2 separate regions of the Homo sapiens genome follow, and region 2 is linked to region 1. Evidence: fine-mapped expression QTL. A gene starts in region 1. The other region holds a variant in brackets. All regions are shown on one strand. Distances are from middle to middle.

Region 1 (8,322 bases):
CCCCCGGGCTCGCGGACCTCCCGCTTCTGCCGGATCAGGCTACTGGCCAGCGCCGCCATAGCGCCCCGGGAGGAGACACCCCCAAACCGGCAGGCGCCCGGAGCGCGCTGGGCTCCCCCAGAGGAGCCCGCTCACTAGGGCATGCTCTTGACGCTCAGGCCCCGACTCGCTGCCCCACCCACAGGACCTGAGGATAAGCCCCAGACCCCCCCCCTCACGTACCCCCCTCCACAGCAGCCAGTTACCACCCGTGGGCCCAGTGCTGGCTCCACCAGATCCAGCAGCCTATGTACTCCTCAGTGGATCCCACCCTCGAGTTTTGCCTCCTATTGAAAACGTCCCCTTTCCCTCCTCTCCAGTGTCTGTCCTCACTTCACCTATCCCAAAGCCAAGACCCACTAAATTTCCAAGACGTGGTTTAAATATCTTCAGGCACCTTTCCACTGTATTTTGGGGCACACTCCTGCCAAATCCACTCTTGTAATCTACAGGGTGTGGGACTTTAGCTTTGGGAATATTCGCTCATCCCACCCCTACTGGGGCACTGCCAATGTCAGGAAGGAACCCAACCTTGGTGTTTTTTCCTTTGCTACACTCTAAATGGAGGGGATCCCCCACTTTTTTCACTGAAATCCCCCCAAAATATGTCTCAGAATATCCAGGTTGCCCAGGTTCAGTAAGACAGGGCTCCCAGACCCTCTGGCTGGATAATACCTTTTTCACCAAGTCCCCCCCATGTCTAGTAGCATAGAATTCTAGCGGCCAAGACCCTTTCTTCACCTTCACACCCTCCGCTCCTTTTGAAGTCACCTCCAAATCCACCCTTCCTAGTGGATACACCAGGTAGTTGACTGGAGGGCCTTCCGCCACCTCAAAATGAGGAGCATCCGTGTTTGTTTTTGTTTTTGTTTTTTTCTCCCCTGGCTGCCCCTTAAATTTTCTTGGGGACAGCTGGTGCTGTTTAGATCCCACGCCCTCCAATCTAACCAGCCCCCCAAGAGAGGAGTGCACCCACGTTGTCACCAGTCCCCAGATGTGAACAGGCCCCCTACAAGTCAGAGCGGATCACAGCTTCCTGCTACAGGGCTTCCTCGTCCTCCCCGGGATTGCCTATAGCACCCCCTCTTCCTTTTCCCGACGCCCCTCAACCTGTCCTGTCCTGTTGATCCGGCGACGGGTGGCGCTGGCTTCGGCTCCAGGCTCCTCCCTCCCTGTCCCCCGCAAACGGAGCTTCCCCCCACGCCCGGCTAGGCGTCCCGGACCCTCGGGAAGGAGTGAGGGTGTCTCTGCAGAGCTCCCCGGTCCGGCGAAGTCAGAGCACTGGGCCGGTGGCTGGACCAGGCAGAGCGGCGGCAGCGGCAGCGGCTGTGGGAAGCTGAGGCGGCGGCGGCGGCGGCGACAGCAGTTCCCCCTCCTCGGAGAGCCGGCCCGGGGGCGGGGCAGGGGGCGGAGACGCTGGGAAATAGGAGGGTGAAGCCGGGCAGGAGGAACCCCGGGGTTCCTTGGAGGTAGAGAGTGCGGACTGTGTCTTACAAGCAGGCAAAGCCGAGGCAAGGCCGCACGTCTCAGCCTTCAGAGGAGGAGGGACAGGAAGGCCTCCTGAACGCACCCCTGGGTAGGAAGGAGAGGTTGGGCCTAAGGGAGATGGAATGGCGGACGCTGGGAGAAGGGAGAGAGACCCTACTGGCCGGGATGTTAGTGAAGAAAGAACCGCACGAGTAAAGTGGGGGAAGAACTGGAGAGATGGAGGATGGGGGGTGGTGAGATCCAGCCTTGGGCGAAATCCGGCCTCCTTCATATCTCTGCCGTTGTGTGAGCCAAATTGATCAGACCCTGGTCTCCATAACTCCTTTTCGCGTTTGGTCAGCAAATATGTTTCTCCCATTTCTATTGGCCCTTAAGAGAAATGACCAAAAGAACTGGGGACAGACGGTTTCTGGAAGCTGCCCCTGGGCGGAGTGCTGGCCACAGATGTGGAGAATAGCGAGGCTGGAATGGGGCAACTTGTGCGGGGGCAGGCGGGTGGGCGTAGAGGAGGAACCAACAGGGAGGTCTTCCAGAAGGGGGGCTTCAGGCCCAGGGCACACAGTCAGTCCCCCTGGCGAGGGGCGAGCAGGGCCCCCCACGTCCCGCTCGCCCACAGAGGCACTTTCCACTGGTAGGAACAGCGTCTTTAATGGGCCCCGCCCCCCACGCCCGCCAAACCGCCCCCCTTGCGGGCCACTTTGGCCTCCTCCACCGCGGCACGGAGGGCCCGGGCCGGGTCCCCGCGGAGCCGGGCCAATTCTCCGAGCAGCGCAGCGGAGTCGTCCCCCGTACGGAGCTGTCGGCCGTTCAGAAAATAGTGAGGCAACGTCCCGGCCTCGAGCACTCGGCCGAGCTCGTCTAGCAGCCCGAGGCAGCAGGCGCCCGCATTTTCTGGCCGCGCCAGGTAGAGCGCAGGCAGCCGCTCGCACGCCCAGTACAGCAGCGTCCGCAGGAGGTAGGGCGCCGCCGCCCGGGTCCCGGCCACCAGCGGGCGCAGTAGCGCCTGGGCCGCCGCGTGCGCCTGCAGCAGCGGCGCTGGTATGCGCGCTTTGAGCGCCAGCTCCTGGCGGGCAAAACAGAGCTGCCAGGCGGAGGCGCACGGCCGCTCGGTGCCGCCACCGGGCACCAGGTAGAAGGAAGCCGACTCAGAGGCCAGCGGACCGGCCCACGAGTGGCTCCGAGCCCCCTCGGGCCAGCCCGCCACGGACACCACTGGGATCAGGTCGAAGAGCAGGAGGCGGCGAGGGGGCTCAGGGGTAGCCAGGAGGACGGTGGTGAAACCCGCGTGGCGAGCTGCGTGCACCAGACGCGGAGCACCCGGGACAGGGATCAGAGACTCGGCGACCGCCGCCAGCGTAGCAAAGAACCAGGCAGCCACCTGGGCGGAACATAATGTGGGCCACGCTTCCCGAGCCTCCGACGGCTTTGGGACTGGGCTTTCGACGGCTGCCTTGGTGACGTCACTACTCATTGTTTTCAAAGGTGCGGTAGAGCCAAGGTCGACGACGTCATGCTGAGGCGACTCGGACGCTGAAACGTCACTAGGCGATTTTTCCAAAGACACCGGCGCCTCGTGCTCAGTGACGTAGCTGTGCGGCTGGTCTACAGAGCTTTGCCAGTCCTTGGAACTTTCTTCGCTCTCCGTTCGGTGGATCGAATCACGTGCTCCTGGGACTGGGGGTCCTAAGCAATCCTGCCACATCTCCCGGATGGGGGTTCCGCACACCATCTCTGGGAGGCAGACCTGTGCGTAACAGGATTCCAGGTCCAGTTGCAGTTCAGTGCCGTCCAGTGAAAACATGGGCACTAGGAGTGTGAAGCCGGCATCGTAGTGAGGTCCCCGGGCGTAGGGACCCAGGGGTGCATGCCCCAGATCCAGGGAGCCCTCGCGAATCCCACCACGAAGCAGCAAGAGCTCTGCCTGGGGAGGAAAGCGAGGGTCCCGGCGGTGAACTAGACCTAAAAAAAGGGAACGGATCGTGAGGGCGTCGCCCAAAGCCGGGGCGGGGGCGGGGGCGTGGTGAGGCTGAGAGCTGTGAGTTCCCAAAGGCAAGTAGGGTTACTTACCAAGCAAAGAGAAGACAAAGTCCTTGGCCCGGAGGAGATCGGCTCCCGGCTTGGGCCCGTCACTCCAGCTCTCCTGCACACCCAGCTCCTGGATCAGCTGGGTCAATTCCTGCAGCTGCGCCCCGGAGCAGAAGTCGATGTCCGTGAGCGGCCGAGCTGGGGCCGGGGGCGGCGGGCCCCACCAGGGGGCACTCCCCCAGACTGCGGAAGCCATGCGGTTCTATCGCTTTGGGCTGCGGAAAACACGGAAGGGAGGTGGCTTTGCTGCCACAAAGTCGTCCCCGTTCTTCCCTCTTCCTGAGGCCGAGCGAGTGCCCCAGACACAACCTACAAATGGGTCTGTAGATGATGGGTTCTAAATTTAGTCCTCAAAATGAACAAATAAATACCTCTTCTATCCTGGCCCTTTTCTCATAGGCAGGTCCCCGCCCCCATGAACTGGTTCACCGGACTCAGCAGGTAAAAAGTAACTGTTGGCTCCTCCTACGGAATGCAGTAGCCAGCCTCCGCTGCCGCCCCTTGTCTACCTCCCTTTACCTCTTTTTTGGAAGAGGCTTATTAGTCTGCGGCTTCCCCCTTATGGGAAGCAGTAAGGGTGGGGAGCAGAAATAGATTCAACAGGTTACTTCTTCCTGATGCCCACGTGGCCACGCCCCTACATTTTCAGCCACGCCCCTTTCTGGAGGCTGTCGAGGTGGTTTCCGCCGGGTCGGGTCGCCAGTCAGAGCTCAATCACTCTTTTGGCCCTGCTGAAATCCCGCGTTATCCTGGGAGTTGTAGTTTCCCGCTCTACTAGGGCGTGGTAGCCACGCCCCCACATCCTTTCCTGTTCCGCTGAAGTAGTGCCTGATGGAAGTTGTAGTTCCTCTGGAGACAGATTATTCTGTGTCTTTTCACACCCATATCAACCCCACTCAAACATTCCTTGGGGTTTGAGAGGGGTAATAGGATGGCTCTGAGTCGCAAAAAATAATGAGGGATGGGCCGGGCGCGGTGGCTCCCGCCTGTAACCCCAGCACTTTGGGAGACTGAGGCGGGTGAATCACCTGAGGTCAGGAGTTCAAGGCCAGCCTGGCCAACATTGCGAAACCCTGTCTCTACTAAAAATACAAAAATTAGCCGGGCGTGGTGGCAGACGCCTGTAATCCCAGCTACTTAGGAGGCTGAGGCAGGAGAATCACTTGAACCTAGGAGGGAAAGGGTGCAGTGAGCTGAGATTGTGCCATTGCACTCCAGCCTGGGTGATAAGAGCGAAACTCCACCCTAGGGCCTGGGGAGAGATAGGGACCCCTGCCTGGGTGGGGTGGGGGGGGTGCATCTTGGAATCCCAAAAGTGGTAGTGTTAGGCAGGAGCACACAGATGGTGACCCAGAAATGGACGTTTGACTCATAGGAGAGACATACATGTTAGTGATGCCCACCTCAGCTCACTGCTACCTGAGTCGTGGCAGGGAAAACACTTTGGGATCTCAAATTTTTGTTTTGTTTTGTTTTGTTTTTGAGACTGAGTCTCGCACTGTTGCCCAGACTGGAGTGCTGTGGCGCAATCTCCGCTCACTGCAACCTCCACCTCCCGGGTTCAAGCAGTTCTCCTGCCTCAGCCTCCCGAGAAGCTGGGATTACGGCGCCTGCCACCATACCTGGCTAATTTTTTGTATTTTTAGTAGAGACAGGGTTTCACCATGTTGGCCAGGCTGGTCTTGAACTCCTGACCTCAGGTGATCCTCCCACCTCGGCCTCCCAAAGTGTTGGGATTATAGGCACGCGCCACTGCACCCGGCCTGGGCCACGACTTCTTACATTCCTTCTGCCCTTGGTCTGTCTCCAGGACGGGATAGGCCTAAGTCCATGGATAAGATAATTAAGGAGGACATCTAGGAAAATTAGAGGCCTGTAAAAGAAGAGACTCCCCAACTGTAGAGATCAATTTGGCAAGCCCAGGACTCAGGGGTTCCTCGTCACTGACAGAGAGTTTTCTCCTTCAGCAACCAGAGCTGGGGTCCCTGGGAGAAGCGAGAGCACCAAAGCAGCCCAGAACTGCGCAAGTAGGTTCCCGTACACACACATCTGGCTGTGACCCAAGAGGCCAGATCAGGAGAACTGGAGACTGGGCTGTTTCTCACAGTCTGGAGTAACCAGGCATCAGACATCCCTGCATCTCACCTCCTTCCCAGAGGGTGGCTTCCGAGGCACTCTAAAAAGAACTAAGTTCTCTGGACTCTGTGGAAGCTTTGAAGATGTTAAGAATGGGTGACAAGGAATAGTTCCTCTAAACTCTAAAGCATGGCTCTCCAATATAATTTTCTGTGACGATAGCAATGTCCTGAGTTGGTCCTGTCTGATACAGTAGCCACCAGCAGCCACCTGTGGCTGTTGAGCACTTGAAATGTAGATAATGTGGCCAGGCGCCCTGGCTCACGCCTGTAATCCCAACACTTTGGGAGGCCGAGGCGGGTGGATCACTTGAGGTCAGGAGTTCGAGACTAGCCTGGCCAACATGGTGAAACCCCATCTCTACTAAAAAGACAAAAATTAGCTGGGCGTGGTGGTGCACGCATGTAATCCCAGCTACTCAGGAGGCTGAGGCAGGAGAATCGCTTGCTTGAACCTGGGAGGCAGAGGTTGCAGTGAGCCGAGATCGCGCCATTGCACTCCAGCCTGGGTGACAGAGCGAGACTCTGTCTCAAAAAAAAGAAAAAAAGAAAAAGAAAAAAAGAAAATGTAAATTAAAATTAAACAAAATTTAAAAATGTGTTCCGCAGTAACATCTACTTTTTTTTTTTTTTTTTTTTTTGAGACAGAGTCTTGCTGTGTCACCGAGGCTGGAGTGCAATGGTGCGATCTCGGCTCACCACAACTTCCGCCTCCCAGGTTCAAGTGATTCTCCCTGCCTCAGCCTCCCGAATAGCTGGGATTACATGCGTGTACCACCATGCCCGGCTAATTTTTGTATTTTTATAGAGACGGGGTTTCACCATGTTGGCCAGGCTGGTCTCGAACTCCTGACCTCAGGTGATCCGCCCACCTCGGCCTCCCAAAGTGCTGGGATTACAGGTGTAAGCCACTGCACCAGGCCTAATATACATTTTAATAGCCACATTTGGCTAATGGCTAGTGTATGGGACAGAGGAGCTCTAGGGCCTTGAGGATAATGGGCTTAGCTATGCAGCTATGGAGGAGAAACAGGGACCTGTCCTCAGTGGCTTTGTGGGTGGCCAGTATCGGGGATGGGCTGGGGTGGATGTCCTCAAACAAACACAGAACATTTCTCTCGCCTCTTTATTCCTGATGCACTTTTGTCCCCTCTTTGTCCAAGGTTCTCATCACATTCTGATATCCCCACTCCTTGATGGTTTCCCCGAGTTGCTGGGTGCCTCTTGATGAAGGCGCCTAGGAGACAGAGCTTCACACTTGTCCTTGCCCACTGCCAACCGTCTCTGACGGGCATCAAAAACCACATGCCCTGCCTGGGTGCCTGGTCCAGGGCAGTGGGACTTCCAGTTGATATGGGTAGGCATAGACATCTGACGATAGTTCTGGTAGCCTGAAGGAACTGTATCCACAGGGCGGTACGCCCCGTGCTGGCTGCCTGCCCGCCAGGAGGATGACTGCAGCTCAATTAATACAGGTACCTCTGAGAAGGTCTGCAGGTCATTGGAGACCACTTGGGCCTTGGAAGGGCAGGAGTTCTCATTGAGTTGGACACGAGCCCAGAGGACGTGCCGCTGTGCGTCCTCCTTCTGAGCAGCCTTCTCAGGCACAGATGACTTCATCAGGGACAGTGTGGACTTTGGGGTCTGAAGCAGGGACAAAAGCTGGACAAAATCAGAACCTAGGGCAGGGCTTGGGTTCTTGTAGAGGCTGGGATCTGGGATGAGGCATGAGCTCTTGTAGGGGCCAGATTCCTGGGTAAGGCCTGAAATCTTGGGGAGGCCAGAGTCTTGGACAAGGGCTGGGTCTTTATGGGGGCCAGGATCTTGATTAATTCCTGGGCACTTGTGGAGATTAGAGTCTTGGCTATGTTCTGAGCTCCTGTAAACTCCAACATCTTGGGGAAGGCTAAATCTTCTTTCAACTTTAGTGGCTTGGGTAAGGCTTGGGAGGTTGGAATCTTGAGTAAGGCCTTTAACTTTGTGGCCACCACAATCTTGGATAAGTCCTGGATTCTTGTAGTCTCCTGAGTTTTGGGTAAGGCCTGAGCACTTTGGGAGGCCAGAGGTTTGGACAAGGCCTGGGCTCTTGTGGAGAAAAGATTCCTGGATAACTCCTGAGCTCTTATTGACTTCAGAGTCTTGGGGAACATACGGACCCTTCTGTGATCCAGAATCTTCAGTAAGGCCTGCGGTACTACAGACTCCTGGATCTTGGACATTGCCTGTATTCTTGTGACCTCCAGAATCTTTAGAAGAGCCTAGGTTCTTTTGGTGGTCAGTTGCTTGGGAGAGATCTTGATTTTTGTAGATCACAGTCTCTTGGTTTGGTTCAAGATTCCTATAGATTCCAGAGTCTTGTGTAAAGCCTGAGCTCCTCTGAAGATCAGAAGTTTGGGTAAATGGTGTTTTCTTGTGGAGGCCAGGGGATTGGGTGAGACATGGGCTCCTAAGGATACCAGCTTCTTGAGTCAGACCTGTGTTCTTTTGGGGGTGGGAATCTTGAGTAATGCCTGAATTCTTGTGAAGACCAAAGTCTTGAGAAGGGCTTGGATTCTGGCAGAGATAAGAATCTTGG
Region 2 (8,322 bases), 38 kb before region 1:
GACTGGGCCCTTCTAGGGGTGTGTGTGCAAGTGCATTCCAAGCCTGCACACCACTGTCTACTGTGCCCGGCCCCACTGGAAGGATGTGTGTACGTGGGGGAAGGGAGGGTGCTGCGGACAGGCCCTCCGGCATGGGGGGCTGGGAAGGGGTGGCTGCCGTGGGAGCCTGCTCAACAGGTGCACAGTGACGGTCTGGTGAAGAGAAAGGAGCCATGGTCCAGGGCTGAGGAGCTCTGGCGTCTTTACCATTCCCTCACTGGCACTTGATCTGAAGGAAGCTCAGTTCCTCATCTGCAGAATGGGGCTGATTGTCTGCCCTGCGTATCTTCCAAAAGCACATGGGAAACGGACCCGGAAAGTGGCTATAGTCTGGGGGCTGTGCCTATGCCAGCCCCTGTCAGCCCTCCCCCAGGACTGGGAATTCCCTTCTTGGGGCTTCGCTGATAATAATGGCAGCACACACTTGCTTAGCACTGACCGTGCACCAGCCTGTCCTCAGGGCACTTATATGTGGCCACTCTGTCCTCAGAACAACACCCTGAAGTAGGCACTCTACCTCCCTTTTTCAAGTGAGGCAGCTGAGGTCCAGAGAAGTTAAGTAATCTGCCCCAAGTCACTTAGCTAGTAAGAGGTGAAGCTGTATTTGAACCCGGGCAATCAGGTTGAAGATCTTGTGCTCTTAACTACTGTACTCTGCTGCCTTCTGGAACATTCAGTGGATGGTCCTTTCTGTGCAACTCCCTCCAACACTCTTCTCCCCAGTTGCTGCAGAACTTAGCATTTGCAGCAGTCCATTTCAGAAGACCCGGATGCTCAGGGATCCCCAGCTGAGGGCATGAGAACCTGAGTCTCTGCTGCTGTGTAAGGTGGATGCTGGCCATAGGAGCACAAAAGGTTGATGAGTCAGAGGAAGGAATGATCGTTCTCATCCTGTGGATCAGGGAGGGCCAAGAAGGAGGTGGCCTTGGAGTCAGATCTTAACGTTTTGGAGGGATTTTGACAAGCTTGGGGAAAGAGCATTTCTGGCAGAACAAGCCAGCACAGGCAAAGGCATGAAGGTGTGGGTCATGTAGAAGCTGGAGAGCACACTGGGTGTCTGGGGTTTTGTTCATTTGTTTAGAAACTGGGTCTCAATATATTGCCCAGGCTGGACTCAAACTCCTGGGCTCAAGCAATCCTCTAGCTGCAGCCTCCTGAGTAGCTGGGACTATGGGTATCTGCCATCACGCCTGGCTCACGCTGAGTACTGTGTGTTTGAAGAGGATAACACAAGGCAAGATTAAAAAGGAAGATTGGAGCTAGACCAGAGCCCTTGACTGCCTGGTAGAAGAATTTGAACTTTCTTCTAGAGTCAGTGGGGACCAGTGGAGGTTTTGAGCCCAGGAGTGATAGTCCTGAACTGTGGTTAGGGACGTTGACCCTCAGGGGGAGGAGGGCTGGATGGAGGAAGGTAAGCCTGGAGGCCAGGGGATAGCTGGGAGGCCATAACCTTGGACCACGTGAGTGTTAACAAGGACCTGAGCTATCGAAGGGAAGATTTCCAGAGCCATTCCCAAGCTCGGCGGCGATTTCAGCCACACTTGATGACTGCTGGATGTGGAAGTGAGGGAAAGGGTGGAGTCAGACATGACACATTTAGCACTTAGCACGTGAGACCTTGTGCGGTGGTTTATGTAACCAGCTGGCGGGCCATAGGCCTCTTCAGGGCCAGGTCTAGCAGTATGGCAGAGGGAAAGATTGAGCATCTGGGGTCAGCTGGGCCTGGATTCGAATCTTGACTGCTGCTTACAAGCTGTGCGACCTCGAGTAAGGTATATCCCTCTCTGAGCCTCGGTTTCCTCTTCTGTAAAATTAGAATAATATGGCCGGGCGCAGTGGCCCATGCCTGTAATCCCAGAACTTTGGGAAGCCAAGGCAGGTGGATCACCTGAGGTCAGGAGTTCAAGACCAGCCTGGCCAACATGGAGAAACCCTGTCTCTACTAAAAATAAAAAAACTAGCTGGGCGTGGAATCCCAGCTACTCTGGAGGCTGAGGCAGGAGAATTGCTTGAACCCAGGAGACGGAGGTTGCAGTGAGCCGAGATCACGCCACTGCGCTCCAGCCTGGGCAACAGGATAATATAAAACCTATTGTGGGTGGCTGTACTGAGAATATCATTAAATGAGGTAATGTGTGTGAGGCCCCAAGAAGAGTATGAGGCAAATTGTGAGGACTCCAGAGTGGTCAACTTATTTATGGTTTCTTTTAATTTTTTTTTGAGACGGAATTTCTCTCTTGTTACCCAGGCTGGAATGCAATGGCATGATCTTGGCTCACTGCAACCTCCGCCTTCCGGGTTCAGGTGATTCTCCTGCCTCAGCCTCCCGGGTAGCTGGGGTTACAGGCGCCCGCCACTACGCCCAGCTAATTTTTTATTTTCAGTAGAGACCAAGTTTCACCATGTTGGCCAGGCTGGTCTCACCATGTTGGCTAGGCAGGTGGTCAATCCCTGACCTCAGGTGATCCACCTGCCTTGGCCTCCCAAAGTGCTGGGATTACAGGCGTGAGTTGGCCATACCTGGCCTTTTTTTTTTTTTTTTTTTTTTTTGAGGCAGAGTCTCACTCTGTCGCCCAGGCTGGAATGCAGTGGCGCAATCTCTGCTCGCTGCAACCGCCACCTCCCCGGTTCAAGCAATTCTCCTGCCTCAGCCACCTGAGTAGCTGGGGTTACAAGCGTGCACCACCACACCCAGCTAATTTTTGTATTTTTAGTACAGATGGGGTTTCATCATGTTGGCCAGGCTGGTCTGGAACTCCTGACCTCAAGTGATCTGCCCGCCTCAGCCTCCCAAAGTGCTGGGATTACAGGTGTGCGCCACTGTGCCTGGCCCAGAAGTGGTCAAGTTATAATTGTCATCCCTATCTCCAGGCCAACTCAGTCCAGCGTGGACGATGGCTTCCATCCTGGAGGATGGACTTTGAGGACAGGTTCATTCATTTACCAGTTTTTTTGTTTTGTTTTTACCACCTATTACGTGCTAGGCCCTATTCTAACGACTTCAGATACGGCAATGAACAAAGCAGACAAAATTCCCTACCCTTGGCCGGGCGCTGTGGCTCACACCTGTAATTCCAACACTTTGGGTGTCCAAGGCGGTGAATTGCTTGATCCCAGGAGTTCGAGACCAACCTGGGCAACATGGTGAAGCCCTATCTCTACTAAAAATACAAAAAATTCGCTGGGCGTGGTGGCATATGCCCGTAGTCCCAGCTACTTGGGAGGCTGTAATGAGAGAATCACCTGAGCCTAGGGGAGGTCAAGGCTGCAGGGAGCTGTGGTAACACCACTGCACTACAGCCTGGGTGACAAAGCAAGACCTCATGTCAAAAAAAAAAAAAGTCTGGCCATGGTGGCTCATGCCTGTAATTCCAGCGCTTTGGGAGGGAGGCCAAGGCGGGTGGATCACCTGAGGTCAGGAGTTCGAGACCAGCCTGGTCAACATGGTGAAACCCTGTCTCTACTAAAAATATAAAAATTAGCCGGGTGTGGTGGCATATGCCTGTAGTTCCAGGTTTTTGGGAGGCTGAGGCAGGAAAATTGCTTGAACCCAGGAGGCAGAGGTTGCAGTGAGCCGAGAGAGATCATGCCACTGCACTCCAGCCTGGGCAACAGAGCAAGATGCCATCCATCTCAAAAACAAAACAAAACCAAAAACATTCCTACCTTTTACCCCTTGGAGCTTACATTCCAGAGATAAATAAGAAATAGGAGCTGGGCGCAGTGGCTTTCCACTATGATCCCAGCACTTTGGGATGCTGAGCTGGGCGGATTGCTTGAGACCAGGATTTCAATACCAGCCCTGGGGAACATGGTGAAACCTCATCTCTACAAAAAATACAAAAATTATCTGGGCATGGTGGCAGGTACCTGTAGTCCCAGCTACTCAGAAGGCTGACAGGTGAGAGGATCATTTGAGCCCAGGAGGTTAAGGCTGCAGTGAGCCTCAATCTCACCATTGTACTGCAGCCTGGGCAACAGAGCAAGATCCTGTCTCAAAAAAAGATAAATAATTGACCAGGCTCTGTAATCCCAGCACTTTGGGAGGCTGAGGCGGGCAGATCACCTGAGGTCAGGAGTTTAAGACCAGCCAGGCCGACATGGTGAAACCCCATCTCTACTAAAAATACAAAAATTATCCGGGCCTGGCCAGGCGCGGTGGCTCATGCCTGTAATCCCTGCACTTTGGGATGCCGAAGTGGGCAGATCACAAGGTCAGGAGATGGAGACCATCCTGGCTAACATGGTGAAACCCCGTCTCTACTAAAAATACAAAAAAAAATTAGCCGGGAGTGGTGGTGGGTGCCTGTAGTCCCAGCTACTCCGGAGGCTGAGGCAGGAGAATGGCGTGAACCCGGGAGGCGGAGCTTGCAGTGAGCCAAGATCGCACCACTGCACTCCAGCCTGGGCGACAGAGCGAGACTCAGTCTCAAAAAAAAAAAAAAAAAAAATGGTGGCGCGCGCCTATAGTCCCAGTGACTCGTGAGGTTGAGGCAGGAGAATCTCTTGAACCCGGGAGGCGGAGGTTGCAGTGAGCCAAGATTGTGCCACTGCACTCCAGCCTGGGCGACAGAGCTAGACTCTGTCCCCCGCCGCAAAAAAAAAA[G/AG]AGAAGCAGTTGGGCCAGTTTCAGTGGCTCATGCATGTCATCCCAGCACTTTGGGAGGCCGAGGCAGAAGGATCACTTGAGCCCAGGAGTTCGAGACCAGCCTGGCCAACATAGAGAGATCCAATCTCTACTAAAAATAAAAAATAAATTAACTGGGCATTGTGGTGTGCACCTGTGGTGCCAGCTACTAGGGACGCTGAGGTGGGAGGTCATGAGAGCCTGGGAGGTTGAGGCTGCAATGAACCATGATTGTGCCACTGCACTCCAACCTGGGCAACGGAGTGAGACCTCATCTCAAAAAAAAAAAAAAAAAAAAAAAAAGAATGGCCAGGTGCAGTGGCTCACTCCTATAATCCTGGCACTTGGAGAGGCAGAGGCGGGCAGATCACTTAAGGTCAGGAGTTCAAAACCAGCCTTGCCAGCATGGTGAAACCCCACCTCTACTAAAAATACAAAAAAATTAGCCAGGCTGGGCGCGGTGGCTCATGCCTGTAATCCCAGCCCTTTGGGAGGCCAAGGCAGGTGGATCACGAGGTTGGGATTTCAAGAACAGCCTGGCCAAGATGGTGAAACCTCGTCTCTACTAAAAATACAAAAATTAGCCGGACGTGGTGGCAGGCGCCTGTAATCCCAGCTACTCGGGAGGCAGAGGCAGGAGAATCGCTTGAACCCAGGAGGCGGAGGTTGCAGTGAGCCCAGATCGCACCACTGCACTCCAGCCTGGGCGACAGAGCTGGACTGTGTCTCAAAAAAAAAAAAGAAAAAGTGTTACTAAGTGCCAAGGAGCAAAATAAAGTAGGGTCGGGAGATAGGAAGTTTTAGAAGGTGGGGAGTGGCCAGGGAAGGCCTCAGGGGAAGGTGGCTTCTAAGTCAAGGCTTAAAGGAAGTTGGGGTTCACTGCATGAGGCTATCTGGAGGAAAGAACATTCCAGCCAGAGGGAACCGCAAGATGTAGGGCGTCTCTGGTGTCCATGCTCAGATCCCCACCTCAGTGGCACATCTGAGGTCACACAGGCACTGAAGAGTAGAGAAATGGTAAGAACAAACAAATAAAAAACTCTAAAACCACAGAGCCACCAAACCTACCAGGAAGCCCAATTTGTGCCTTTTTTTCTTCACTACTTCTCCCCACCATTTTCCAGGACTGAGTTCTACAAACTAAATATTGCCAGTTGTTAGCTCATTTAATCTTTACAACAACCCCACAAGGTAGGAACTATTAATTGTCCCCACCGTATGGACAAAGAAACAGATACAGAGAGGTTAAGTAACCTGCCTGGGGTCACATAGCTAGTCTTTTCCACTTCCTATAAGGCCTTGCAGGGCAGTAGCCAGGATAGGGCAGTTTAACTCAAGCTGCGTCCAAACGCTGGGTTGGCTAGCAACAAAACCAGAGGCAAATAACCCCATCACTACCTACCTTCTACCTGAAAGGGAGGAGTTTAGAGTATTTGATTTCTCTAAGCCTGTTGTCTCACTGGCCATTTTGAGTGTTGAAATGAGATGATACAGATAAAATGCTTAGCATTATACTTTGCACATCATAAGTATTTCAAGCCTGGGCAACGTGGCAAGACCCCATCTCTACAAAAGTAAATAAATAAATTAGCCAGGCATTGTGACATAAGCCTATGGTCCCAGATACTCCGGAGGCTGAGGCAGGAGGATCATTTGATTCCAGGAGGTCCAGGCTGCAGTGAGCAATGTTCACACCACTGCACTCCAGCTTGGGCAACAGAATGAGACCCTGTCTCAAAAAAAAAAAATTTTTTTCATAAATGGCAGCTACAGAGACCATGATGACAATGATTGTGTGTGATCTTAAGGGCCAGTCCAGCATTGGGTGTCTCTAGTTCTAAGAAGCCCTGACAGGTCTCGTCCAAGTACTGTGGTAGTCAGCACACGGTCACACATGCATAGCCCACCACATATGGTTGTGCAGGTTGGCAGGCCCAGCCAGTGGGGTGAATGGGGACTGGAGGCAAAGCTTGACTTTGCCCACCTACACAGGGCTGCTACCTCCTGGAGGAAAGAACCTTGCTTCTAATTTTCAGAAAGGCACCCAGGTAGGATATTTGTGCCCTAGTGGGTGCCATAAACACGTCCTTCGTTAATATATGGTGAAGTCATCAGGAACACAGGCTTTGGAGCCAAACTTCCTGGGATCAGATCCCAGCCCTGCTACTAGCTGGTCATACGTCCTTGGGCCAGCTACCTAGCATTGATAAGCCATAATCTGACATTTTATTTATTTATTTTGAGACGAAGTTTCATTCTTGTTGCCCAAGCTGGAGTGCAATGGTGCAATCTCGGCTCACTGCAACCTTTGCCTCCTGGGTTCAAGTGATTCTCCTGCCTCAGCCTCCTGAGTAGCTGGGATTATAGGTGCCCACCTCCATGCCCTGCTAATTTTTTATATTTTAAGTAGAGACGGTGTTTCACCATGTTGGCCAGGCTGGTCTCGAGCTCCTGAACTTCAGGTGATCCATCCACCTCGGCCTCCCAAAGTGCTGGGATTACAGGCATGAGCCACCATGCCCAGCCTATTTTATTTTTTTGAGGCAGGGTCTTGTTCTGTCACTCAGGCTGGAGTACAGTGGCATAATCATAACTCACTGCAGCCTTGAACTCCTGGGCTTAAGGGATGCTCCCACCTCAGCCTCCTGAGTAGCTGGAACTATAGGTGCACACCACCACACCTGGCTAATTTTTGTATTTTTTGTAGAGACCAGGTTTCTCCATCTTGCCCAGGCTGGTCTCGAACTCCTGAGCTCAAGGGATCCACCTGCCTCAGCCTTCCAAAGTGCTGGGATTACAAGTGTGAGCCACTGCACCCAGCCCATGGTCTGTCATTTTATTTATTTATTTATTTTTTGAGACAGAGTCTCGTTCTGTCACCAGGCTGGAGTGCAGTGACGCAATCTCGGCTCACTGCAACCTCCGCCTCCCGGATTCAAGTGATTCTCCTGCCCCAGCCTACCGAGTAGCTGGGACTACAGGTGCCTGCCACCACGTCCGGCTAATTTTTGTATTTTCAGTAGAGAGAGGGTTTCACCATGTTTTTCAGGATGGTCTCAATCTCTTGACCTCGCGATCCACCCGCCTCTGCCTCCCAAACTGCTAGGATTACAGGTGTGAGCCACCGTGCCCGGCCTATTTTTTATTTATTTTTATTTTTATTTTTTGAGACAGAGTCTCACTCTGTCACCCAGCCTGGATTGATCTCCATCCAGCGCGATCTCGGCTCACTGCAGCCTCTACTTCCTGGGTTCCAGCAATTCTCCTACCTCAGCCTCCCAAGTATCTGGGATTACAGACACCCACCACCATGCCTGGCTAATTTTTTTTTTATTATTATTTTTAGTAGAGATCGCCACATTGGCCAGGCTGGTCTAGAACTCCTGACCTCAGATGATCCGCCCGCCTTGGCCTCCCAAAGTGCTGGGATTACGGGCATGAGCCACCGTGCCCGGCCTTAAAGAGGGAAAGTGGCCAGGCATGGAGGCTCACGCCCATAATCCCAGCACTTTGGGAGGCCTAGGTAGGCAGGTCACAAGGTCAGGAGATCAAGATTACCCTGGCTAACACGGTGAAACCCTGTCTCTACTAAAAATACAAAAAATTAGCCAGGCATGGCGGCGGACGCCTGTAATCCCAGCTACTCAAGAAGCTGAGGC

What was found. PIP is the estimated chance that this variant, and not a neighbour inherited with it, causes the effect.
Region 2: its variant is fine-mapped to the expression of TMEM102 in whole blood (INTERVAL, PIP 0.99).

Annotation. Positions count from the first base shown.
Region 1 is chr17:7,431,358-7,439,679 of GRCh38, reverse strand. It overlaps TMEM102 (transmembrane protein 102), which reads right to left and starts at 4,245. Exons shown (of 3, transcript NM_178518.3): 1 at 3,984-4,245; 2 at 3,595-3,827; 3 at 2,001-3,486. The coding sequence starts at 3,808. The coding sequence ends at 2,174. It overlaps SPEM3 (SPEM family member 3), which reads right to left. Exons shown (of 3, transcript NM_001364708.1): 3 at 6,860-8,322. The coding sequence ends at 6,918. It overlaps FGF11 (fibroblast growth factor 11), which reads right to left and starts at 168. Exons shown (of 5, transcript NM_004112.4): 1 at 1-168. The coding sequence starts at 59. RefSeq lists silencers at 1-66, 1,345-1,444, 2,416-2,695 and enhancers at 1-358, 612-1,520, 1,535-1,634, 2,431-3,340, 4,392-4,561.
Region 2 is chr17:7,469,279-7,477,600 of GRCh38, reverse strand. All of the region lies in intron 1 of ZBTB4 (zinc finger and BTB domain containing 4), which reads left to right. Among named protein-coding and RNA genes, the nearest start is that of ZBTB4, 6.2 kb to the left of the region's middle. The variant G/AG (reference allele first, on the strand shown) is at 4,646.